Regions from separate parts of the Homo sapiens genome. Here regions 1, 2, 4 and 5 are each linked to region 3. The links come from fine-mapping of genetic effects on gene expression. A gene starts in region 3. Each other region holds a variant in brackets. All regions are shown on one strand. Distances are from middle to middle.

Region 1 (4,810 bases), 43 kb before region 3:
ACCACCTGGGTCACCTGGGAAACCACTCAAGCTGGCCATGCCTTAGTTTCCTCATGTGCACCAACCCTGCAGAGAGGGCCCCAGGACTAGTGTCCACTTAGGTAAGGGGCCTGGCCTTGTCACGTTAAGAAGCACCTCCTGTCCCGAGCCCATGTCCTCCTGTCCTCCTGTTAGAGCCACACTCCTTAGAAGGGTGGCCTGTGTCTGGAACCACCGCTCCACTCCACCACCGACCTCCAGTTCCCCAAATCCCAATGCCTCTCCTTGGCCCTCTGACCTGGTCTCTCAGCAGCTGGCAAGCCAGCCGGCCAGGGCATTGACTGCAGCCCCCTTCTCAAGTGGTTGTTGGGCCACCATACTCGCCTGGTGTCCCCCAGCCTACTGGCCACTCCCTCCCAGGCATCCTTGCTGGTCCCTACTCCGTCCTGGGGCCTCCCTGCTTCTCATCTGCATGCTGCCTGGGCAGTCTCCGCCGGCATGCCGGCCTTCACGCTCAACTCCAGACCCGGGCCTCCTGCTGCCCTGGTGACATCTCCGCTCCAAGGGGTCCTGTGCATCTCCCACCCAGCTCCTGTCCCTCCCCAGCTGTCCCCAGCCAGGAAATGGCAGGCAACTCCTTTTGTTTGGGCTCTGAATCCTGTAGCTGGGTTGGACTCAGCTCTTCTTCTAACAACCCACATCCTAAATCTTGGTTAGTCCTGTTGATTCTATTTTCAAAACACAACCAGAATCCCAGCCCTCTGCCCAGTTCCACCGTCATCTGAGCCACCATCATCTTTTGGACTATGGTCCTGGCCTCCTCCTGATCTTCCTGCTCCTGTCCTCGTCCCTACAGCCTGTTTCCAGCATGGCAGCCACGTGAGCCCTGGGAAGCTGCACGTGCAATCACGTTGCTCCTCTGTTTTCAGAACCCTCCATGGCTCCCCACTGCACTCAGAATAAAGCCCAGGTTTCTGGGAGGAGCCTCTACAACATTGCCTCCTATGGTCTTTCTGACCTCAGACCCTGGCTCCCCCTCCCGCTGGGCGCTCCTTGGCCCCTTTGGGATCCTCCGAGTTAACCAGGTACAGCTGCACACCACGGTTGCTTCTGCCTGGAAGCAATGCTTCTCCCACGGATGTCTGCATGGCTGGCTCCTTCACTCCCTCAGGTCCTGGCACAGCAGCCCCTTCCAGAAGCACCCTCTTGAAATCTGCAGGCCCTGCAGCTGGCGACTCCCTGGTACCGTTCTTCGCTTTCTGTTTCTCTATAGCATTTCACACTTCTAACATACCCCAGAGTTTGCCCCACTCAGATGTGAACTCCACGTGGCCAGAGGTGTTTTTTTTTTTGTTTTTTTTTTTGCCTGTGTTGTTCACACCATCATCTTGGAGCCTAGTAGGGTCTGGCAAGGTAGAAGCTAATTCGTGAATGCAGAGGCAGCTGTCCAGGGTCTGTGGAGGGCAACTGGGCCCATCTCACAGGGTCCCTGAAATTAGGCCCCATGGGCAGCCACACGGCTGTGATGCAACACTGGGACTGGCCAAGGGCAGGAGTCCTGAGTGGCCATGACCCCACCTTGGGATCAGGAAGCCTTGCCTTGAATGGGATAATATGGCCCCGCATCCCCTAGCTCAAGTCCTTACAGCAGAGGGTCTGTTTAAGGACACCCTTGGCGTCCTCAATGAGACAGCACCATCTTTCCCCAACTGCAGCAGGTCCTTCTCAAAGCCCTGACCAGCCTGTCCATCCACCTGTACCCTGCACCAGCCCCTTGAGGCTGGGGCCAAAGCAGCTGAGCTCAGGACCCTTCAGAGTCAGAATGTGACTCCCAGTGCATCCTGGGAAGCCCTCGCCTAGGCCCACCGGCAGTCTTCCATGGGCCAAGTGTGTGCGGCACTCACGTTGTCCTCTGACAGCTTGTCGATGGTCACCTTGGCTTCTAGCAGATGGCTGTTGAGGGCAACAATCTCGTGGCTCAGCGCACGCTTCTCCTCCTCATAGTGCTGGCCCTGGGGGTGGGACAGTGGGAGGAGGAGGCCCGTGGTTGGCTCCTGGTGAGCCAACCCAGTCGCTCGATTGCACCCCCTGGTTTGTCCCTTGTAGCCATGAGTGACAAGACACTTAGAGGGCCAAGGGTGTGGGGTTTATGAGCACAGACAGACCCTGGTTCAATTCCTGGGTCCAACACTGCCAAGCCACACAGCCTTGGGGACGTCACTGCCTCTGAGCCTCAGTTTCTCATGTGCAACACAGAGGTGACAGCGTCCTGCCTCAGGAGCTGGGAGTGGGGACGGAGGACAGATGACTTGTGCCTGGCATAGAGCCCAGCCCACCTCACTGGACAGATTGGGAAACTGAGGCTCAGGAAAGGGCCGGTGTCCAGGCACCCAGGCAGAGCCAGGCCCAGCCCCCAGGCCTGCCACCCCCCGTCTCTGATAGCACCACAAAGGTGGGCAGGTTGTTGCTTTCAAAACCAAAATGAGCTGGTCACCAAAGTAGAAAGAAAGGAAACCTCTTCATCCTAGTGAGGGAGTGGCACCAGAAACCCACACCCTGCCCCTCTTCGACATGTCCCAGCAGTGTGTTCACAGAGAAAATGGCGACCCCACTGAGGTCACCTGCAGGTGGTGTGAGGGTCCCCACAGAGGGGTCCCCATGAGAGGCGGAGCTGGGGCTCAAACCTGCCTCTGGCTCACCCAGGGCCTGAATTCGGG[C/T]CTCCCTATCCTCCTGGGCCCAGGTCCTTGGACTGGCAGGCTGAGCTGGGGGGCCCGTTCCCAGTGTATGTCCTCCGTCCACAGCCCCTCTTACACACCCCCAGGCTGGAGTGCTCGCACCCGCCACTCAGGCAGCACAGGGCAGCCCTGGACCCAAGTACTTCCTTAGCCTGAGAGCACACACCCTGCTCCACATGTTCCATGGAGAAAGGGGTGGGACCAGCAAGACCTGTGTCCCAGCTCCTGAGTGGCCCAGGGGTGTCAGCTGGGTGGCTCCCCCCGGGAAGGAGGTGTGGGGTGGGGGAGTGGGCGCTGCGTGGCGGCCTCACCATGCGGTACAGCTTGTCCTCCAGCTCCTGGTTGATCCTCTGCAGTGCCATGTAGTTGCTCTGAATCCTGGTGCAGGAGGCAAGGGGGTCACTGCCATGCAAGGCCTGTCCCTCCCACGACCCTTATGGCCGCACAGCCTGCTGAGCAGGGTGGGGCTGAATTTGGACCTCCTGAGCTCACCCCACCAGCTTCACCCTGGTGGAATGTGTGCCCCTCTGCACACAGCAGAGAACATCCCATTAAAGCAAACTTTTGTAGAAGCCTTTCCTAGGCCAGGGCCCAGGACTGTATTTCCCCCTCCACCCCGGGACCCCCTGAAGATGGGAAGGGAAGGCTTGTTATTCACAAGAGACTCTGTCCCATCCACACGCGGAGCCAGTTTACTCACATTTGACCCACAATTCTTACAAACCTGTTATGGGGTTGACAGTTCAAATGCAAATGAGCAGGGAAGAAACTTAACACTAACTATGTGATGGGCCCCAGGGTGAGGCTGGAGACATCACAGTGAACAAGACTCGGTTCTGCCGGGTAGGAGGAGTGGAGCTGAGTGTCAGGTGGGAATCAGGTGCTTGGAGATTCCATTGCTGGTGGGAGGGGGCTTGGGGATGGTGTCCAGCCTCAGACAACCTATGTGTCGTGTTATGGCCCCTGTCTTGCCAATAGGGAAACTGAGGTGAAACTTTAATTACTTAAAGCAGTAACTGGCAGGGCCCAGATTTTAACTGAGGTCTGACTGCACTGCCCAAGCTTGGTTTCCACATGAATGGAGGGTGACATTCAAAACACTCAGGAGCTGGGGCTGTTCGGAGAGGGACAAACCCTCTCCCTATGGCAAGTCCTCCCTAGGGGCAACACCAGCCGATTCTCTACAAATACCTAAAACAAATCAAGCCAACAGCAAAGGTTGCATGCTTCTTGCATTTTCTGTTTAAGAAGATGAGAAAGTGCATATTACATTTCAGAAAAACATCCATTTTAAATGTGCACAAGAAAACTGCTTTTAGAAAAGTTTGGTGTTTGAGGGAGTCCAGCACAACTGGATCGACACTTCATTAGCCCGTACGCGCTCAAGGGAAGGGTCCCTAAACTGGTTCATCTCCGGGCTAGACACAGCTTTTCCCATCAGGACCCAGGGAACCATGGCTGGGCCCCGGGTGGACCAGTCTGGGTCTGGAGATCTGCTGGGTTCAAATCCTGGCTCAGCTGCTCCATAGTGTGACTTTGGAGGAAGAGCTTCCCCTACCAGAACCTCTGGACTCCCCATCTGAGTGGAGTCAACAGCCAGGGTGAGAGGGGAGCACCGCGTGCGGCTTTCCGGGCCTCGGGCCCTGCCCCACCCCGGCCCTCGCCCCGCCCCGGCCCTCGCCCCGCCCCGGCCCTCGCCCCGCCCCGGCCCTCGCCCCGCCCCGGCCCTCGCCCCGCCCCGGCCCTCGCCCCGCCCCGGCCCTCGCCCCGCCCCGGCCCTCGCCCCGCCCCGGCCCTCGCCCCGCCCCTCACCTGCGCAGCTTCTCCGTGACCTTCTCCAGTTCCTCCTGCGCGCGCCGCAGCTCGATCTCCAGGTAGTGGCGCGTGGAGTCGAACTCGGTCTCGAGCTTCTCGAGCTTGTGTGTGGTGTAGGACAGCCGCTTGCGCAGCTCGCCCTTCTGCTCCTGCAGCGCGCTGCAACGACATGGCGGCGGCGGGCCGGGCCGCGGCGCTGAGCGGGGGAAACTAAGGCCCGCAGGCCAGCCGGGGCGTGCCGCACTAACACGCGAGTACCGGCGCGCGCGCGCGCGCGCACA
Region 2 (4,810 bases), 120 kb before region 3:
TGCTGGGCTCCACTGCCAGGAGCCCAGGGAGAGGCCAGACTTCACACCAGTCCCTGGGGCTCCCCTTGAACCCTCAGGCCAGCATCTTGCCTGCCTAGCCCCGCAGTGGTGGTGGCTCTGGGCCCTGCCTCTCCTAGGGTCTGGCAAGAAGGAGATGATAACTTGCTGGTCCAACCCCTGCCACTCATGCCCAGCAGCCCCCAGGAGACGCAGAGGGAAAATGGAGAAGGTGGTTTGTTTCCACCTTGAGTGTGGGCGGCCTTGCAGCTCCTTGCATGCTCAGTAGGGGAGGGGACAGTACTAATGGTCACAGGGCCCCTGCCACGTGCTATAGGCTTTGCACACAGCATGTCTAATCCTCACTGCAGCTGCCAGCAGTGATTATTTCCATTTTAAAGGAGAGGAAACTGAGGCTCAGAGGGGCAAAGCAGCTTGCTCAGTGCCTCCCAGTGGTGCATAGCCAGCAGGGATTTGAAGCCATGTCTGTACAACTACAGATTCTGTGCCCTTCCCACCGTGCCGTGTGTGGCAGTTTCTTCTCACAAAGCACTTCCCTGGTCTTACTGATTCTCTTAACCCCTTGCAGAGTGGCCAGACTCAGGGAGTTTGATGCCACTTGATGATGGTGATGACTGGGCTGATGATGGCAGCACTTACTACTGAGCACTGTGTGCTGGGCATTCTTCCACAGCCTCTATACAGCATCTTATTTAGGCCCCACTCACCCTTTGAGACAGGCGCCATCAGAATCAGCTGTACACACACTGGCCAGGGGCACAAACCAGCAAGTGACAGAGCCAGGATGCACGCAGGTCTGCTAGGCCCCAAAGCCTGCTGCCTGACTGTTACACTCTGTTGTCTGCATGTCCCATAAGATATGCTTGATAGGCGAGACAGAGCTGAACAAGACCCAGTGCCTACCCTGGAGAAGCTCCTGTCTGCTGGAGAAGACAGAAGTGCAGAGTCAATCCCAAATTGCAGTGATGGAGAAAGACACAGGAATTGCAAGAACATCTAGATTGGAAAATCAAGGAAGACTTCCTGGAGGAAGTGAAACCTGAGCTGAGCCACAGATTAGGTGGACAGAGAATTAGGATGGAGGAGGTATGGTTGATGAGGAGGAAAGTAGGTTCTTGCAGATGGAACAAGGACAGAGCTGACACAGGAACAGGGTTCCATGTAGTATGCATGGAAACCAAAGCAGGATGTAATATGGGGTGCAGGGGCTGGGGCAGATGAGTCTGAGGAGTGCAGGAGGGGAAACCCCAGCCTGTGGGTCAGGTGAGCACATGTGGGTAGCACACCGCTCACAGAGTGACAAGCTCACTCACACACACCGTCGGATTACTCAAATCAAATTCATTTGATGGCATTGATGGGTTCATAGTGGCCCTTAAGCATTATTCTCTCAATCAACAGAAGTTAAACAAATGCATGCAATTGTATGTGTGGGTGGGTGTGAGTGGGGTGTCTTGACAGGGGGTTCTGAAATTTTTAGACATTCAAAGAGGGTCCTCCTGTCTGATGAGTCAGGGACTGCCATAGCAGCTGGCGGGCAGAGGCCATTGCTGAGTTTGAAGCAGGCAAGAGTCAGGGCTTGGTCTGTGCTTTGAGTAGTCCTCCTTGGTAGCTCCCACTGGTCCTGTGTGACCTGCAGCCCCTGGTGGAGAGTTGGAGGAGTGGGAGGTAGAATGCCTTGCCTGGTTGGTGATAGGACTGCGTTTGGAGAACAGCTTGTCTGGCCCCAGGCCCAATGTGCCCCTCTAGCTGTGGTGTGTTGGGTGTGTAAAGAAAAGCATGGCCCTGCCCCCAGGGCATTACCATCCAGTGGGGGAGGTGATTGAGGACTTCTTCACTCCATCCCTCTGCTAGGAATGGCGCTCACCACTGGGTTCATTCAACTGTTGAATGAACTGTTGAATTCAACTCTTGAAGGCCCCGTTTCGTTCACTCCGCAGTTGCTTATTGTGCACCCACTGCGTGTAGGACTTGGTGCTGAGGCCACAGTGGAGAGTGTGGTGGGCCCCTGGGAGAGAATGGTTGAGGGATTTGGACCTCACCCTTGGGGAAGCGCTGCACACACAGACAGGGTCTCTGCTGCTGAGGGTGGTTGGTTTCCATGTCCCTCTCCCTGGCTGGCTTGGGAGCTCCATGAGGATGGGAGCCTGTCCTGGTGGTCTTTGTGTCTCTATCCTCTGGCCAGGGCTGGCTTGGAGCAGCTGCTCAGTACCTGTGTGGGTAAGATGTGCTGAGTTTGTCCTTGCCAGGTCCTCCTATCTGGGCAGTGAAGCCCATCAGGGACTGCCAGGGCTGGTCGGGGGGCCTCCACCTATGTCTCCCCCTATGTCTCCTACCTTATCTCTGCACATCCCACCTCCAGCTTTTGGTAAGTGCTCTCTTTAGCCATTGGGGTGGGCTCTGCAGGCCCTGTGGCTTTCGTCCCGCTTTGACTTGTCTTGTCCTTTCTCTTCGCTGAGTCTGATCTCCCTTTCTACTGGATCTGCCTTTTTCCGCCCTTGGTGATTTGGCTTTTTCATTTCAATCTAATTAGGGCTCCCTGCCAGGAGAAGGCAGTGCAGGGCGTTCTCACCGCAGCGCTTTGGGAATTAGTCACTTGGTGCCCATTGTCATTAATTTGGCGCCAAGGCCATTTATCCTGGTGTCCTCAATCAATACAGTTAAAAATCTGTGGATTCTGTAATGTCAATACCTGGCCTGAAATACGGAGGGCCAGCACCATTTTATCTCATTAATTTATAGTTCTGACAGGTTGTTGGCTTATAGAACAACCATGAATCAACACTTAAATAAAACTTGCTCACA[A/G]TTATTTTTGGTGCTCTTGTTTCAGTCTGTAATCTTCCTAACAAAACGTCTGTGGCACGTTAGGCTGAGGTGGCCTCAGGGAACGCTGGCCGACTCCACCAGGGCCCTGAGTGTCACCTGTCTTATGAGTCAGCTGTGCCACACGCCAGCTCAGCCAGTCTCCTCAGAATCCCCCGGAGAGCTCCCTCAGTTCTAAGCGGTCCTGTCATGTTTCTTGCAGACTCCAGGCCCTGAGGCAGGTGTCCCAGCCTGACCCTCGAGGCTGCAGCTGTAGAGGCATGCAGGGCCTCTGTCCTTTACCTTTGATGGCTGCAAAGGAGATTCCTCTTCCTGGAGCCCTGGAGCCCCGGCTGGGCAGGGAACCCTGTCCTCCTTCCTGTGCATGGGCCGGCTCTCCTGATGTGCGCTGGCTCCTCTGAGCCATCTGTGCAGTGCCACCTGGGTCTACCTCCCAGATCCTGGAGGCAGCACGCGTGAGAGGGCACATAGACAGGGTACAGGTGTTGGCTCTTCTGCCTCCCCGAACCAGGCCTCTTCACCTGTTTCTACCACACCACCTGGTGCTGGGGCTGTTGAAGGGAGCAGCTGTGATAACACATATAGGGTGCTTTGCAGAATGCCTGGCGTGTGGTAGGTCCTCAGCAAGGAACTCCTCTCCTCCTCCGTCATGGCCCATGAGGCCCTTGTTCCTGCTAAGCTGTCCAGATGGCCCTTGTTGGCAGGCCATTTCCCCACATGGGGCCACTTTTCGATCATCATCCAGAGGCCCCTGCTGGTCCCCTCAGTGAGCTTACAGATGTGCTGTTGGTCCCCTGCGTGGGTCTTGGGGGCAGACTGGGAGGAGGCCTTGGGCCATCATGGGTTCTCCCAGCATCTCCTCCACATTCCCCTTCCTCCTGGTAATGGGACAACACGCACTCTTTATTAGGGCTCTCGAGTGGGTATACAGACCCCCAGCCTGCCCGGCCTGACCCTCTCCAGAGCCCCAGGCACTCATGGCTGCAGGAGGCCTATGGCCCTCTTCCTTCAGATGCCCACAGCCTGCAGCTCTGCTGTCCCCAGCTTTTGGCTGGCTCCTCCTGCCCTGGGTGTCCCAGTGTCTTTTGGTGGGAGTCATGTTGTGTGGAAGTGAGCAGCCAACTGGGACTGGGCTCATAAATGACCATTTCTCCTTGCTTTCCAAGAGGTGTCTTCTTGTCTCTCCCTTGTTTTCAATCTATGACTGGGGCTTCCATTCACAGAAATGCTACAAGGAAAAAGAGAATGACAGGTTATCGAGCCCTTGCTGTGGGCTGGGCCCTGGGCTATGTGCCCTGGGTTCCAGCACGCTGCCTGGCCTGTGTGGAGGTGAAATGAGTGAGTGGATGGTAGACTCTTTGCTTATGTGACTCCTCCTGTGAGAGGAGTGTTTTTAATCCCATTTCATGGACCCAGAAACTGAGGCTTAGCATGGTCAGTGACTTTCTTGAGGTGACAGAGGTGGGATCCAGTGCTGGCATGTGACTAGTAGAGCTCCTGCTGTTGAGGTATGGTGTGGCATGCCCTCCCCACGTCTGTTTCCCTGCTGTGAACAAACAGGGAAACAATGGGGAACCCAACTTAACCTGACTCCTGGGGAGCCTGCTGGGCAGCAGCTGGCCACCTGCAGAGGATAACATGGGGCCTCTGGGAAGAAGGAGTGCTCCAGACTCATGGGGACTGATCCCTCTGATTAAGTGGGCCACTGAGGGAAAGATGCCTCTTCAGTGATGGATGGCCACGCTCCAATGACGACTTTAGACCACTTGGCATGGGAAGGGTGAGAAGTGTCCAAATGAAAACCATGGCAAAGAGCCCCAAGAGCTCCTGGGCTTTGGAGAAGGGGCCACAGAAGGAGGCTCCTTGTTGTGCTAAGCCTTTGAGGTGGTGCTGGCTCCTGCCGGTCCTTGGAAGAAGTGCCGTGGAGGGGCCTGGGCTTCTCCGTTCTTTGGCTTTCTGGCACTGTGGC
Region 3 (4,810 bases):
TGAGTGTAGAATTCACACACTTAGTCATTCATCATTCATTCATTCATTCATTCCTATAATGATTAAAGCAATAGAGACACCTCTGGCCAGCTTCTCCCACCACAGGCTACAATCTGATGCCTGCTCTCAGGCCACAGAAGTCACTCCCCTGACTGTAATGGGTGTTAAGCTTCTGATACGGAGCCCTAGAGAGGAGACAGTGAGTCAGCGGCAGAGGAGGAACCAGAACCCAGGGCTGCAGACCTCCGTCCAGGCCTCTCCACTAAGGCTAGCGACCAGCTCTGCGGCAGGAAGGGGAGTCAGAAGAGAACCATGCGGGGTGATTCTAGACCAACACGGCGAGTCCTAGGGTCACCCACCCATCTGTCCCAGGGATCCTTACCTCCCTTAGGGGGAGGAGCCACACCTCCCCACCGCCATGGCTTCCACACTCCAGCAGGACACAGCCTCTCTAAGTCTTGAGACTTGAACACTCTACACTCTCCCCATCACCTTCAGGCCTTGGGCCAGGCTCCTGTAACACACCTTGACCCCTTCATCTGTTCAGCAACTACTCAGCCCTTGGACCCCACCTCCTGGGACCCTGGGTAATGATTTGTGGACTGTGTCCAATAGCCATGGACTCATGGGCTTCAGTCAATCCCTCCCATCCATCCATCCATCCATCCATCCATCCATCCATCCCTCCCTCCCTCCCTCCCTCCCATCCATCCATCCATCCATCCCATCCATCCATCCCTCCCATCCCTCCCATCCATCCCTCCTTCCCTCCCTCCCATCCATCCCTCCCTCCCTCCCTCCCATCCATCCATCCCTCCCTCCCTCCCTCCCATCCATCCATCCCTCCCATCCATCCCTCCCTCCCTCCCATCCATCCATCCATCCATCCATCCATCCATCCATCCATCCATTCATCCATCCATCCACTCTTCAGCATCAGGAGTGCCTGCAGGAGTAGGGAAGCTCCTTCAAAGTGTTGCCGTGGAGATGATGCGTGGAAATGCTGATCCAGGGCCCAGTACATAGCAGGCGTTCCATAAATGGCAGCTATGTGGGCCAGACCCTGCGCCCAAGTCTTGGGAGAGTGGATGGAAGATCTTCCAGATTGCTTAGGGCTCATTTCCTCTCTCCAGGCCTGGGCTCTGACAGGTGTCCCCCTACTCCACCCCAGCGCATGGAAAACTCATCCTCCAGGCTGAGGTTCTAGGCAGCCCTCCCCTCCCCACTCAGCTCCCAGGTGCGAACAGCTCCAGGTTTTGACGACAAACGGAACGCGGAGCCTTGGAATCTATAAATATGAGACAAAAGCTGGGGAGGGCCCTTGGCGGCAGCGCAGCCGCCCATCGCCCAGAGCCCGTGTGCTGAGCCCGGGCAGAGCCGCATCTGCCACAGTGCTTGCTTTTCCAAGCTGCCCTGATTATAGTGAGAGTCGGGAAAATTAAGGGTTTGCAGGATGCTGCTGGGGCCCTCTCTGCCGTCTCCCCGCCCTGCGTGTCACAGATGCCAGGCAGAGCCACCCCCAACGGCCAGTTGCCCCTGCTGGCAAGACCAAGGCCAGCCTGGCAGGGCTGCACACCGCAGTTTGTTAGGGGCTTCTGCCCACAGTCCTCGTGGGAGCCTGGCCCTGGGAGTAGTGGGGGTCTCTGCTGCTCTTGGCAGGCAGAGGAACTAGGGTCCAGAGAAGGAAAAGAACCTGTCCATGGCCTCCAGAGAGCCAGAGCACTGGGGCCTCCGACGGAGCCTGGCTGTGGAGACCCCGCCCCACCCATACCCCCAGGGCCTGGACCCCCAGTCTGCACTGGCGGCCGACCTTGGCCATGCGGACTTTGCACGTGCAGTGCTCCCTATCCATCCGGCCCCGCTCCCGGGTGCCCACTCTGCTCCCATTCTGCCGGCTCAGGAGACTCCAGCGCGTCGCCCACGCTGTTCCTGCCCTGAGGAAACCACATTGGGGATGGGGTGGGGCACAGACGAGGAAGGAAACACCTCTAAACCAAGCAGGAAGCGGAAACGCTGGGGCAGAAATTCCCATCCAACGTGCTGGGGCTCAGGGAGGGTGAGCGCGCCGGCTGAGCCGCTCTGGGCGAGGCCCTGGCCTCCCTGAGCCTCAGTTTCCTCGCCTGTAAAGGGGCAGGAGGATAGTACCTGCCGCGAGGTACTGAATGGGATGGTGGTGTCCGAGGTTCGTGCGCGCCCACGCGCTGCAAACGCTCAATGAGGCGGCCCCGGGTCCAGCCTCCTTCCGGCTCCCGGGCCTTTCTCCGGCCTCCCAAGCAGGGGCTGGCCCTGCCCCCAGACGCAGGCGGGTCCAGGCCTGCCCGCACCCTCGCCACCCGCCCGGGACAGCGGCGGGTCCCCAGTCCTCCGGCCGCGCCCTTGGTCACCCGTCCCTCCTTTCCTTCCGCCGCAGGGGCGCGCGTGTCAGGGCGCAAGGACCCCGCGATAGGACCCGGGCGCTCCCGGCGGCGCGCGGAGGCTGGGCATCCCCGCCCCACCCGAGAGTGCCCAGTTCCCAGGAGACCCGGCCCGGCTCCTCCCGGGCCAGTGAAGCCTCCACGGCGGGGGCGCAGCGCGGAGGGGAGCGGGGCGGGGGGCCGGCCACCTCCCGCGCTGAGCAGGGACCGCCCCAGGCGTGGGTGGCGCCCGCCCCGCCTCCGCGCCCGCGCCCGCGCCCTGCCCTCCCGGCTCGCAGGTACTCACCGCCCGGCGCAGCCGGCCCGGCCGGCGACCGCCAGTCCACATGGCCCCAGGGCAGCCGCGCCGCTCACCGCCGCCGCCGCTACCGCCGCCCCCTCCCCTCCGAGGCCGAGCGCGCCGGGAGCCGGCGCGGCCGGGGCTCCCCCACCCCGCCCGGCTTCCCGCAGGGAGCGCCCGCCCCCCGCCCCCAGCCCGGCTCCCCGCCAGCCCCGGCCCCGCGCAGCCGCGGCTGAGCCCGCGCGTCCTCCCGGCAGCGCCCGGCCGGGGCGCAAGTGGTGGGCGCAGGGCCGGGCAGGGGCGCGGGGGTGCGGCGTGCGCGGGGGCCAGGCGAGGAATGGCAGAGGGGCAGGGAATGAATGAACCCGCGCCAGCTTGAATGGCTGAGCGCGTGAATGAATGAGTGCGGTAGAGCATGCGGGGCTGGGGGGGCGGGGGGAATGAATAAATGAGAGAACTAATGCACGGGCGCGAAGGTGAGTGACAGAGTGAATGGGCCCTTGAAACCCAGAGGCTGTCAGTAATGACCTGCCCAACCTTTTCATCGGTCCATCCATTCAATCCCTCAACATTTATTAGACACCTAGTGTGTACCAACCAGCCCTGCTGTAGGCCCCAGGGGGTACAGTAGCGAGTGAAACCAAGCTCCTGCCCTCGCAGAGTCACATTTTACAGATGAGGAAACCCTGGCTCCCAAGGGTGCCTCCTGGCCAAGCTGCCCCTTACCCTGCCCTTGCTCTGCCCGAGCCCCCAGTCGGTGGCTTCCAGGGCTTGCCTTCTCCCCAAGGAGCTCTCAGGAAGGGAAGGTGGCTTCAGGAGGACCAGTGTTGCCCCCTGCCTATCCCTCCAGTCTGAAGCATCCCACCGACCTGCCCGGTAGAGCCCAGGCTGGCCAGTCCTACCCTGGTAAAGGTGCAGCGTGAACCCTCCTCTCTCCTCCCAGAGCGGGCAAGGGGCAGCCCTGAGGGTGCCAGCTACATGAGGGTCTTCCATCCCAGCCAGCCCAGCAGCAGCCAGCGTGGGAACCCGGGGAGGAGCACTGGCAGCCAGGGAGGGTCCTGCGTGGTGGAAACAGAGCTGGCAAAGCCCGTGTGCTTCGCTCATATCCTCCCTCGGGACCTATGGGCTCATGGTTCACACATGCTTATATCATTTCCAAGTACATGGCAGATTAGAAGATGCTGCGAATGAGTACCTTGTATATTTTTGTTTTTTAATTGTGGAAAACATGGAAAACATAAAATTTACCATTTTAACCACTTTTAAAGTGTACAGTTTGGGGACACTGAGTTCCCACTGTTGAGCTGCCATCACCACCATCCTTATATGCTGTATGTTGTATGCTTTGCAGTTTCTACGCTCTCTCATTTAATCTGGGGAGTAGGTTGCTACATTCAGGCAGTGTCAGTGCTGAGAAAAGGCACTGATAGCAAGGCAAGAGGGGAAACCCAGAAAAAAAGGAGACAAGCAAAAGAACCAGCAGCTGACTGGAGCCACTTCGTGTCAAGCAAAGTCCTGTCTCTGCTCCCTCTCAGGTCCCAGGGACATGATTGGGTAACCAATGGACAGAGGGAGGCGCCTCCAAGTGCACCCCACCACAGTCAAGACAAAATGAGAGGCGGCAGCTCAGGGCGGGGCTCTCCCAGTTTGGGCGAAGCGTGGACAGACTTCGCCCAAACCGTCGCTGGTGTGCACCACGGGACCAGCCTCTTTGCTCAAGGGGGCCTTAGTCTCCCCAGCAGGAGTAGGGACAGGCTCCCTGACCTCCACTCTGGCCTCTCAGGTTCAGACACCATTCAGGCAGCACACAGCAGTGGAGGCATCCTGTGAGAGGTAGTGAGGCCCAGCCTGCCAGCTCCAGTGTCCCTTCCCTCCCCAGTCCCTAAGGGGACAAACACCAATGGGGGATGTGGAACCTGGGGTACAGGCAGGGCTCTGCCCACATTGCCTCCTCCTGGGCTGCGGCCCTTCCCCAGAGGCTGGTCCTGCTCAGATGGTGCCAGAATGTTCACCGCCCGCCCTGGCACTGCTGCTGCCAACGCCACAGATGGCTGGGGAGGCGGGGGAGGGGCGGGTGGGGTGGGGGCGGCTCCTGCTTCAGCTCCAGCAGCTTGCA
Region 4 (4,810 bases), 31 kb after region 3:
CAGGGGCTGGAGGGAGAGGGTAGAGGGGGCATTGCTTTACAGAGACAGAGGTCCCTCAGCTTGAGGAAACTGAAAAAGTTGAGGGTGATGATGTTTGCACAATGTGAATGTACTTTTTTGTTTTGTTTTGTTTTGAGACGGAGTCTCGCTCTTTAACCAGGCTGGAGTGCAGTGGCGCAATCTCGGCTCACTGCAACCTCCACCTCCCAGGTTCAAGCGATTCTCCTGCCTCAGCCTCCTGAGTAGCTGGGACTATGGGTACACGCCACCACACCCAGCTAATTTTTGTATTTTTAGTAGAGACGGGGTTTCACCATGTTGGCCAGGATGGTCTTGATCTCTTGACCTCATGATCCACCCGCCTTGGTCTCCCAAAGGCTGGCATTACAGGCGTGAGCCACTGCACCTGGCCTCAATGTGAACGTACTTAATGTCACTGAACTGTACACTTAAAAGTGGTTAAAACGGTATCTTTTATGTTATATATATATATATTACCACAATTTAAAAAAATTCTTTATTTTTATTTTTATTTTTTTGAGATGGAGTCTCAATCTGGCACCCAGGCTGGAGTGCCGTGGTGCCGTCTTGGCTCACTGCAACCTCTGCCTCCCGGGTTCAAGCAATTCTCCTGCCTCAACCTCCCGAGTAGCTTGGATTACAGGTGCCCACCACCACACCCGGCTAATTTTTGTATTTTCAGTAGAGACAGGGTTTCACCATTGTTGGCCAGGCTGTTGTTGAAATCCTGACCTCAGGTGATCCGCCGCCTTGGCCTTCCAAAGCGCTGGGATTACAGGCATGAGCCACTGTGCCCGGCCAATTCTTAAAAATTCTAAGAGAAAAAAACAAAACAAAAAACCTTTGCCAATCTCCATATTGAAAGGCCTGCTTTGAACTCCTCCAGCCCAGACCCCCAAGCCCTGTAAGTGTTAGCCCTGCCCTCCTCTCCTGGGACCTGACCCAGATCCTTAAGCAGTAGCTGGCAGGAGGTAGTCAGCTCCGCCTTGCCTCGGAGCAATGGTTCTGTTGGTCTTTTTGGGGAATAAGCAGCAGTCACATGGCTACATTGCTGCTCAGGAGTTTGAGACCAGCCTGGGCAGCAGAGTGAAACCCCGTCTCTACTAAAAACACAAATACAATACTGAGATATTGTGGCCCGGGATTTCCATGTGGAAGCTGCTCTCTGAATGAAGACGGCCCAGGAGGTTGCCTGTCTGCCCTAGGCTATTGGACACCACATCCCCAAAGAAATCTGCGATTGTGCCGGCCAGTCCGCAATGCAGTCGCTCCACGTGGAGGCTGGGCCAGACATACGGGAGGACACAGGATTGAAGAGCCGGCCAGAGTGGACAGGGCAGCAGAAGAAAGATGGGGTGCACAATGTTGGGGGACCCTGGACAGCACCTGTGGATGTAGCCGCTGCTCCTGACAACTTCTGGAAGATTCCACAGACCCACGGAATGATGGCCAGCAGCACACGTGGATGTGGCTGTGCCGGTTGGTTGATTGGTTGGTTGTAGAAAAGAATTTTGCCTTGCCCAAAAAAGAGTTCAGGTCTTTGCTTTCAACTCCTGGGAGGTGACCTCTAGGTCCTTGGAATGTCCTGCCAAAGAGTGTCTTCTCCCTGCAGGCTTTGGGCCAGACCAGCAAGTCTAACAAGGTGATTTGAGGTGGGCAGTTTGAGTCACACGGTAACACGGTATCAGCTGGATGTCTGGGGGAAGCTTTTGACTGGGGTCTCCCAGGTAGATGATTGACGGTAGAGGCCCCAGAGAAGATCCTGAGCTGAATGCCAAAGCTTGGGCGAGCTTCCCTAGTTGACAAAACCCCATGTCACAGGAAGTAACACTGTCCATGACCCCATGGGGAGAAGACAACGGGAAGCCCCGTGTCTGGAACTTTCCTGAACTCTGCCCCATGTACCTCCTCCCTCAGCAGAGTCTAATCTGTCCCTTTCATAAGCTCACTGTGAGCATAGCAGCTTTCAGTGAGTTCTGTGAGTCCTTCCATCAAATTTTGAAAACGAAGCATGGTCTTGGGAACCTCCAAACCCTCAGCTGGTGTCAGAAGTGAGGGTGAACTTGTGGACTGTCCCTTATGTCACAGCGACTCTCTGATTGGCAGATGTCCATGCAGAACGGAGTGCTGGATATGTTGACTGTCACCTTGGTGAGCAGGATTTTGAGAAAGAGCAGTTGATGTCGGTTCCCTCTTATAGGTTATCCTAGAGTAGTTGAGAGAGAGAGAGCAAGAGAGAGAGAGAGAGCGAGAGAGAGAGAG[C/CGAGA]GAGAGAGAGAGAGAGAGAGAGAGAGAGAGAGAGAGGAGACTTCCTGCCTCAGCTCAGAGCTCACCGGGTAGCTGCTTCCTGGTAGATCTGTGTTAGGGTGCCACCCTGGAAAGTTGGAGTGAGGGAAAAGGGGAGTGGGGGAGGCTGTGCACAGGAGAGCGCAGGAGAAGCACAGCCTTTGTTCTGTCTCCTGGGATGACTTCAGAGGCTGCCTGAAAATTCTTATGTGGAGCATGTGTATGGGCGGTGGGAGGGAGAAGAAATGATCCCAAACTCTTGTCTCCTATTGGTCAAAGCAACTGGGGAGATCCCTAACCTCTAGAGAAACTGGAGTGACAGATGCTGGTTCCCCTTGGTGTGCGTGGGAGGGAGGCAGCCTGGGTTAGAAGCTGCGTTTTGCGGGAGACCTGGCAGGCTGGACTGGACAGGGCTTCCTGGGCAAGAACTCCTGGGGGCACCCGGCTTCCTTCCGGCTGTCGAACTTCCTAAATGAACATCCAACATATCCTTCTTATGAGGAAGAGAGAAGCCTTAAGGACTTTGGTCCCTGGGATGGGACCAGAACCAGTAGAGTTTGAGCTAAAAACAAAGACCGCCTTAAGGAGGGCCGGCTTTCAGAAAGCCTCGCTTGTTTGGGAACCTTCCTAAAATAACACTGTTCGAAAGCTAAGACAAGAGCTCAGTTGTGCAAACCATAGGGAGTTTTAATCTGTGTGCCTGCTTGCGCCTGCCAGCTCGGCACGTGCTCGGAATCGGAGGCCAGTCTCTGGAGGGTTCTCTGCTGGAGTGGCTTGAATGAGGCCTTCATGCAGAAGCAGATCCCACCCTCACTTCTCTGAAGGATGATAGCAGGCTCCAGGGCCCTGAGTGGGGCACTGATCAAATGCGTGGGTCCTTCTTAGGATCTTTTTAATGGGTTGCTCCTTTTTAAATGATGCTCAGTTCTCAGTGGGCGTCTCTGCCCTTCTGAAAGACGAGGCTGCCTCCTGCCCACCCTCATCGTAGGCAGCCAGGGTCCTGGCACGGGGAGGGAGCTGCCACTGCCGAGGAGTGTCTCTTCCTGTGAGCAGCTGCGGCTGGCTGCCCAGAGCTTTCTGGGGAAGTAGGATCAGAGCTGTGGCTCTGATGGGGTTTTCTCTGCCCTGGCGGGAGGGGTGAGAAAAATGAAGAAGTCAGGTCACTGCTACTCTTCCTGGGAGGAAGACTGGGGGAAACGTTATAATGTTTTGGCTCAAATCCTCTTTGTGAGAAGGTTCTGTGAGTCCAGAAAGGATAGGGTCACCATCTGACTTCTAAGGGTGATTGGACTTTGGGTGCCAGTAGAGCCTCCCAAGATTCTGCTGCCAGGGGAGGGTGGTGGGGGTTGGTCACAGCAGGAGCTGACATTTTCTGTCAAATGCTGCCTTGTTTGTCATTGCACCCAGAAAATTAATGGTGGTAGCAGGAGCAGTTTCTGCCAGCCAGGCTCGCTGCTAAGCACACGAGCGCCTTTAAGCCTCACCGCAGCCCTTATCCTCACTTCCAAATGCACCGTGCTCTAAACATTGAGAACGTTTTCCTAAGCTTGGCAGCACAGCCAGATGTGATTCGACACAAGGCTATTTGTGATCTTTATTGATCCCTTGGAGTCAATATGCACACATCACACTGGGAGATATGGATGTTTGATTAGGAAGTGCTATCCCGGCCCCTGGGGGTTGTTATGTAATAGATGGTATAAGTGCCATGTGACCTGTCTGAGAGCCACACAACTTGAATTTCTAGTAGACATCTGGCCTTGAGGCTTCTGGAGAAGGGACTTGGGACCTATATTCGCCTTATTTTATAGACATGTCATTTGAAGCGTTGGAGTCAGGAAGAGAAGCTGAAGCTGGGATTTGCTCCCAGCTCCGTGAGACCTGAAGCTGGGGCACTTTGCAAGCCTTCCATGCAAAACCCAGTCTGGCTCTGAGGTACAGGCTCAGTTTGCTCAAAGGAAAGATTTCTCCAGTGTTGTCTGGATTTGTGTGGCCGTCAGAAGAGCACAAGGCGTGTCAAGTTCATGCAATGCCACTGACAATGAGTGAACACTGCCATCACCGTCACAGTTGCCATGATGATCTCGCCTGAGCCTCACAGCCCTGGGAGTGGGCGGCATCACCCCCATTTGACAGGGATACTCAGGACCCTGGTGACAGGCTTACAGGTCACCCGACTGGGAGGGGAAGTCGGGGATCCAGGCTTTGCCCAACATTTGCAGCAGTTTCCCCTACACTCCTGGAGGCAGGGGTGACTTATGAAATGAGACTAATTTGGAAGCTGCTGGATAACTAGAGATAGGAGTGACCTGGGCCCTGCCGCCAGGGAGCCCAGTCTAGTTCAGGAGCAGAGCTGCAGCAAGCTGAGGGCAGAGATCACCTAAGACAGCACATCTCCAGGGACCCTTCAAGGGCTGTGAGCCCAAGGGACCCTGGCTGGAGGCTGGGGGCGCCTGTGGCCTCTCTCCTGTGCACCCTCCCTGTGGTCCTGAGCCCTGAGGGAAAGGCT
Region 5 (4,810 bases), 79 kb before region 3:
TTTTTGGAGCCTTGGTGGAAAATCAATTTGCCACATGAGGTTCTCTTTCTGGCTTGTCAGTTCTGTTCTATTGATTGATGTGTCTATCATTTTACCAATATCATACTCTTTTGGTTACTGTAGCTTTATAATAATTTTTGAGATTGAGAAGTTTAAGCCTCAAACTTTGCTTTTCTTTTTCAAGATTTTTCTGGCTATTCTAGGTTCTTTACATTCGTATTTCAATTTTACAATCAACTTATCTTTTTCTACAAAGATATCTATTGGGTCCAATCTGTAGATCAGTTTGGGGATAATTGACATCTTAATAATGTTGCATCTTCTTATCCATGAACATAGCACATCTCTTCATTTATTTAGCTCTTCTTTAGTTTCTGTCAGCTGTGTTTTGTAGTTTTCAGTGTTTGATGTTACACATGTTGTATTAATTTATTCCTCAGTTTCTCATGTTTTTGGATACTAATGTGAGTGGAATTTTATATTTTATTTCATTTTCCAGTTGTTTGGTATTAGTATATAGAAATACTATTAACTTTCTTTTTAAAAAAATAATTTCAACTTTTATTTTAGATCCAGGGGATACACGTGCAGGTTTGTTACCTGGGTATAATGCGTGATGTTGAGGTTTCGGGTATGATTGATCCCTTCACCCAGTTACTGAGCATAGTACTCAACAGTTAGTTTTTCAACCCTTGCCCGCTCCCTCCCTCCACCCTCTAGACCACAGTGTCTATTGTGCCATCTTTATTTCCACAAGTACCCAAAGTTTAGCTTCCACTTATAAGTGAAAACATGGAGTATTTTTGTTTTCTGTTCCTGCATTAATTTGCTTAGGAAAATGGTCTCCAACTTCATCCGTGTTGCTGCAAAGGACATGATTTCATCCTTTTTTATGGCTGCATAGTATTCCATGGTGTATATTTGCCACATTTTCTGTATTCAATCTACTGTTGATGGGCACCTAGATTGATTCCATGTCTTTGCTATTGTGAATAGTGCTGTGATGAACACGTGAGTGCATGTGTCTCTTTGGTAGAATAACATTTTCTTTTGGATATATACCCAGTAATGGGATTGCTGGGATAAATGGTAGTACTGTTTTATGTTCTTTGAGAAACCTCCAAACTGCTTTCCACAATGGCTGAAATAACTTACATTCCCACCAACAGAGTATAAGTGTTCTTTTTTCTCTGCAGCCTTGCTAGCACCTGTTATTTTTTTGACTTTTTAGTAATAGCCATGCTGTCTGGTGTGAGAAGTTATCTCATTGTGATTTTGATTTGCATTTCTCTGCTGACTAGTGATGTTGAACATTTTTTCATATTTGCTGGCTGCCTGTATGTCTTCTTTTGAGAAGTGTCTATTCATGTCTTTGGCCCATTTTTTAATAGGGTTATTTGTTTTTTTGCTTGTTCAATTGTTTAAGTTTCTTATAGATTCTGGATATTACAGCTTTGTCAGATGCGTAGTTTGCAAATATTTCTCCTATTCTGTAGGTTGTCTGTTTACTCTCTGGATAGTTTATTTTGCTGTGCAGAAGCTCTTTGGTTTAATTAGGTCCTGCTTGTTAATTTTTGTTTTTATTGCAGTTGCTTTTGAGGACTTAGCAATAAATTCTTTCCTAAGGCTGATGTCCAAAATGATGTTTCCTAGGTTTTATTTTTATAGGATTCTTAAAGTTTGAGGTCTTACATTTAAATGTTGAGTTAATTTTTGTATATGGTGAAAGGCAGGGGCCAGTTTCATTTTTTTGTATATGGCTAGCCATCTATCCCAGCACCATTTATTGCAAAGGGAATCTTTTCCCCATTGCTTATTTTGGTTGACTTTGTTGAAGATCAGATGGCTGCAGGTGTGCAGCTTTATTCTGGGTTCTCTATTCTGTTTGATTGGGCTATGTGTCTGTGTTTGTACAGTACTATGTTGTTTTGGTTACTGTAGCCTTATAGTATAGTTTGAGGTCAAGTAATAGGATGTCTCCAGCTTTGTTCTTTTTGCTTAAGATTGCTTTGGCTATTTGGGCTCTTTTTGGGTTTCATATGAATTTTAGAGCAGTTTTTTCTAGTTCTGTGAAAAATGATATTGGTAGTTTGATAGGAATAGCATTGGATCTATAGAGTGCTTTGGGCAGTATGGTCATTTTAATGATATTGATTCTTCGAATCCATGAGCACGGAATGGTTTTCTATTTGTTTGTGTCGTTTATGATTTCTTTCAGCAGTATTTTGTAGTTCTCCTTGTAGAGATCTTTCACCTTCTTGGTTAGATGTATTCCTAGGTATTTGTGTTTTTTTTTTTTTTTATGGCTGTTGCAAATGGTATTGCAAATGGGATTGTATTCTTGATTTGTTCTCAGCTTGAATGTTATTGGT[G/A]TATAGAAATGCTACAGATTTTTACACATTGAATTTTTATCTTGAAACTTTACTGAAGTCATTTATTAGTTCCAGGAGCCCTTTGGCATAGTCTTTAGGGTTTTCTAAATATTGAATAATATCATCTGTGAAGAGAGATAGTTTGACTTATTTTTTCCTATCTCAATGCCCTTTATTTCTCTTGCCTGACTCATTCTACAAAGCCAACATTTCATACCAAAACTTGGCAAGAAAAAAAGAAAACTACAAGCCAATATCCCTGATGAACATAGATGCAGAAATCCTCAACAAAATACTAGTGAACCAAATCCAGCAGCACATCAAAAAGTTAATTCACCATGATCAAGTAGGCTTCATTCCTCGGATGCAAAGTTGGTTCATTATATGTGAATCAACAAATGTGATTCACCACATAAACAGAATTGAAAACAAAAATAATATGATTATCTCAATAAACACAGAAAAAGCTTTCAATAAAATCCAACATCCTTTCGTGATAAAAACCCTCAAGAAACTAGGCCTTGAAGGAACATACCTTAAAATAAAAAGAGCTGTCTATGACAAACCCACAGCCAACTTCATACTGAATGGGCAAAAACTGGAAGCATTCCCCTTGAGAACTGGAATAAGACAAGGGTGCCTACTCTCACCATTCCTAATTCAATGTAGTACTGGAAGTCCTAGCCAGAACAATCAGGCAAGATACAGGACTCTTTTATATGGACTGTGTATCATGTGACCTTACTAAAATTCACTTCTTAGTTCTTGTAGCTTTTTCCTAGATTACTTAGAAATTTTAATTTACATGATCATGTAGTCTGTATTATTTTACAGCTTTCTTTCTAATGCATGTGCAATTATTTATTTTTCTTGCTGTATTACAATGACTAGAACTTTCGGTACAATACTGAATAGAAATTGTGAAAATGGACATTTTTGTCTTGTTTCTCATTTTGTAGGGAAAACAATCAGTCTTTTACCATTAAGTATGATGTTAGATGTTGGTTTTTCATAGATACCTTAAGTCAGTTTAAGAAAGCTACCTTCTATTCTTAGTTGTATGAATTTTTTAAAAATCATATATTGGTGTTGAATTTTGTCAAAAATGATTTTACTACATCTATATGTTTTCCTATGTTCTGCTAATATGTTGAATTACATTGATTTTTTTTAAAGTTAAACCATATCTTTCCTATTTGGTTTTATGATATATTGTCCTTATATAGAGTTTAATTCAAGTTGCTAATAATTTGTTAAGGATTTTTAAAATCTATGTTAATGAGGATTATTGATCGATACATTTTTTCCTATATTCTTTGTCTCATTTTGATGTGAGATTAATATTGACCTCAGAAAAGTGAACTGAGAAATGTTCTCTACTTATGTTTTTGAATGTTTGTATAAGATTGGTATTATTTCTTCCTTAAATGTTTGATAGAATTCAGCAGTGAAGACATCTGGACACAAGACTTTCTTTGTAGGTAGATATTGAATCACAAAAAAAATTAACTATGTGTAACGTGGGCCATTCAGGTGTCCTATTTCTCCTTTAGTTGTTTTTGTTATCTTTTATCTTCTAAGGAATTTTTCCATTTTATCTAAATTGTCAAATTTATTGCTCTAAAATTGTTTTTAACTTTATTTTTTAATGGCTGGGGTGTCTTCATTTCTTCTTGTTGATCTGAGTGCCAATCTGGTATCACTACCCCCCAGGCTGCAGAACTTCCTTTAGCATTTCTTATAATACAGGTTTGTGGTGGGGAATTCTCTGTTTTTGTTTATCAAAAATGTCTTTATTTTTCCTTCATTTTTGTCGTGTCCTGCCCTTTTTATACTTTTATGGAAATATAACTGACATACAATAAGCTGCACATATTCAAAATGTACAGTTTAAGTTTTCATATATGTATACATCCATGAAATAGTTACCACAATCAAGATAAATAATGCATCCATTACCTTCAAAAGTTTTTGTGCCCCTGTGTTTACTTCTAGAAGTTGTATAGTTTTGGGCTTCATATTAAAGTCTGTGATCTATTTAGTATTAATTTTTTGTGTATGGTACAGGTATGGATGTAGTTTCATGTTTTTGCCTGTGGATAATCAAATTTCTGCAGCATTTGTTGAAAACAATATCTGTGCCTTTACCTCTCTGTGGAAATCAATTGGCTAAATAGATTTAGGTCTATTGTTGTACTCTCTCTTCTGTTCCATTGATTTCTTTTTTTTTTTAATTAAAAAAATTTTTTGTAGGCTGGTTATGGTGGCTCACACCTGTAACCCCAGCACTTTGGGAGGCTGAGGTGGGTGGATCACTTGAGGTCAGGAGGTCGAGACCAGCCTGGCCAACATGGCAAAACCTGTCTCTACTAGAAGTACACAAAATAGCTGGGCGTGGTGGCGTGTGTCTGTAGTCCTAGCTACTCAGGAGGCTGAGG

Which allele goes with the higher level. Alleles are on the strand shown, and positions count from the first base shown. SD is a standard deviation of normalised expression in the study named. Not every link is listed here.
As copies of G replace A in region 2, the expression in skeletal muscle of the gene that starts at base 2,869 in region 3 goes up (moderate effect, 0.49 SD a copy in GTEx).
For the expression in esophagus muscle of the gene that starts at base 2,869 in region 3, allele G in region 5 goes with a lower level than allele A (small effect, 0.21 SD a copy in GTEx).

Evidence for each region.
Region 1: its variant is fine-mapped to the expression of BEGAIN in whole blood (INTERVAL, PIP above 0.99).
Region 2: its variant is fine-mapped to the expression of BEGAIN in skeletal muscle (GTEx, PIP above 0.99).
Region 4: its variant is fine-mapped to the expression of BEGAIN in whole blood (INTERVAL, PIP above 0.99).
Region 5: its variant is fine-mapped to the expression of BEGAIN in esophagus muscle (GTEx, PIP 0.97).

What each region holds. Positions count from the first base shown.
Region 1 is chr14:100,541,975-100,546,784 of GRCh38, forward strand. BEGAIN (brain enriched guanylate kinase associated) reads right to left here. Exons shown (of 7, transcript NM_001385089.1): 3 at 4,527-4,688; 4 at 3,026-3,092; 5 at 1,884-1,991. It overlaps LOC124903382 (a long non-coding RNA gene), which reads left to right. Exons shown (of 2, transcript XR_007064334.1): 2 at 1-969. Among named protein-coding and RNA genes, the nearest start is that of BEGAIN, 43 kb to the right of the region's middle. The variant C/T (reference allele first, on the strand shown) is at 2,697.
Region 2 is chr14:100,469,045-100,473,854 of GRCh38, forward strand. The region is part of intron 3 of WDR25 (WD repeat domain 25); the gene reads left to right. Among named protein-coding and RNA genes, the nearest start is that of WDR25, 95 kb to the left of the region's middle. The variant A/G (reference allele first, on the strand shown) is at 2,824.
Region 3 is chr14:100,584,549-100,589,358 of GRCh38, forward strand. It overlaps BEGAIN (brain enriched guanylate kinase associated), which reads right to left and starts at 2,869. Exons shown (of 7, transcript NM_001385089.1): 1 at 2,701-2,869. The coding sequence starts at 2,742.
Region 4 is chr14:100,615,162-100,619,971 of GRCh38, forward strand. No RefSeq gene overlaps it. Among named protein-coding and RNA genes, the nearest start is that of BEGAIN, 30 kb to the left of the region's middle. RefSeq lists a silencer at 31-228. The variant C/CGAGA (reference allele first, on the strand shown) is at 2,284.
Region 5 is chr14:100,505,365-100,510,174 of GRCh38, forward strand. All of the region lies in intron 4 of WDR25 (WD repeat domain 25), which reads left to right. Among named protein-coding and RNA genes, the nearest start is that of BEGAIN, 80 kb to the right of the region's middle. The variant G/A (reference allele first, on the strand shown) is at 2,373.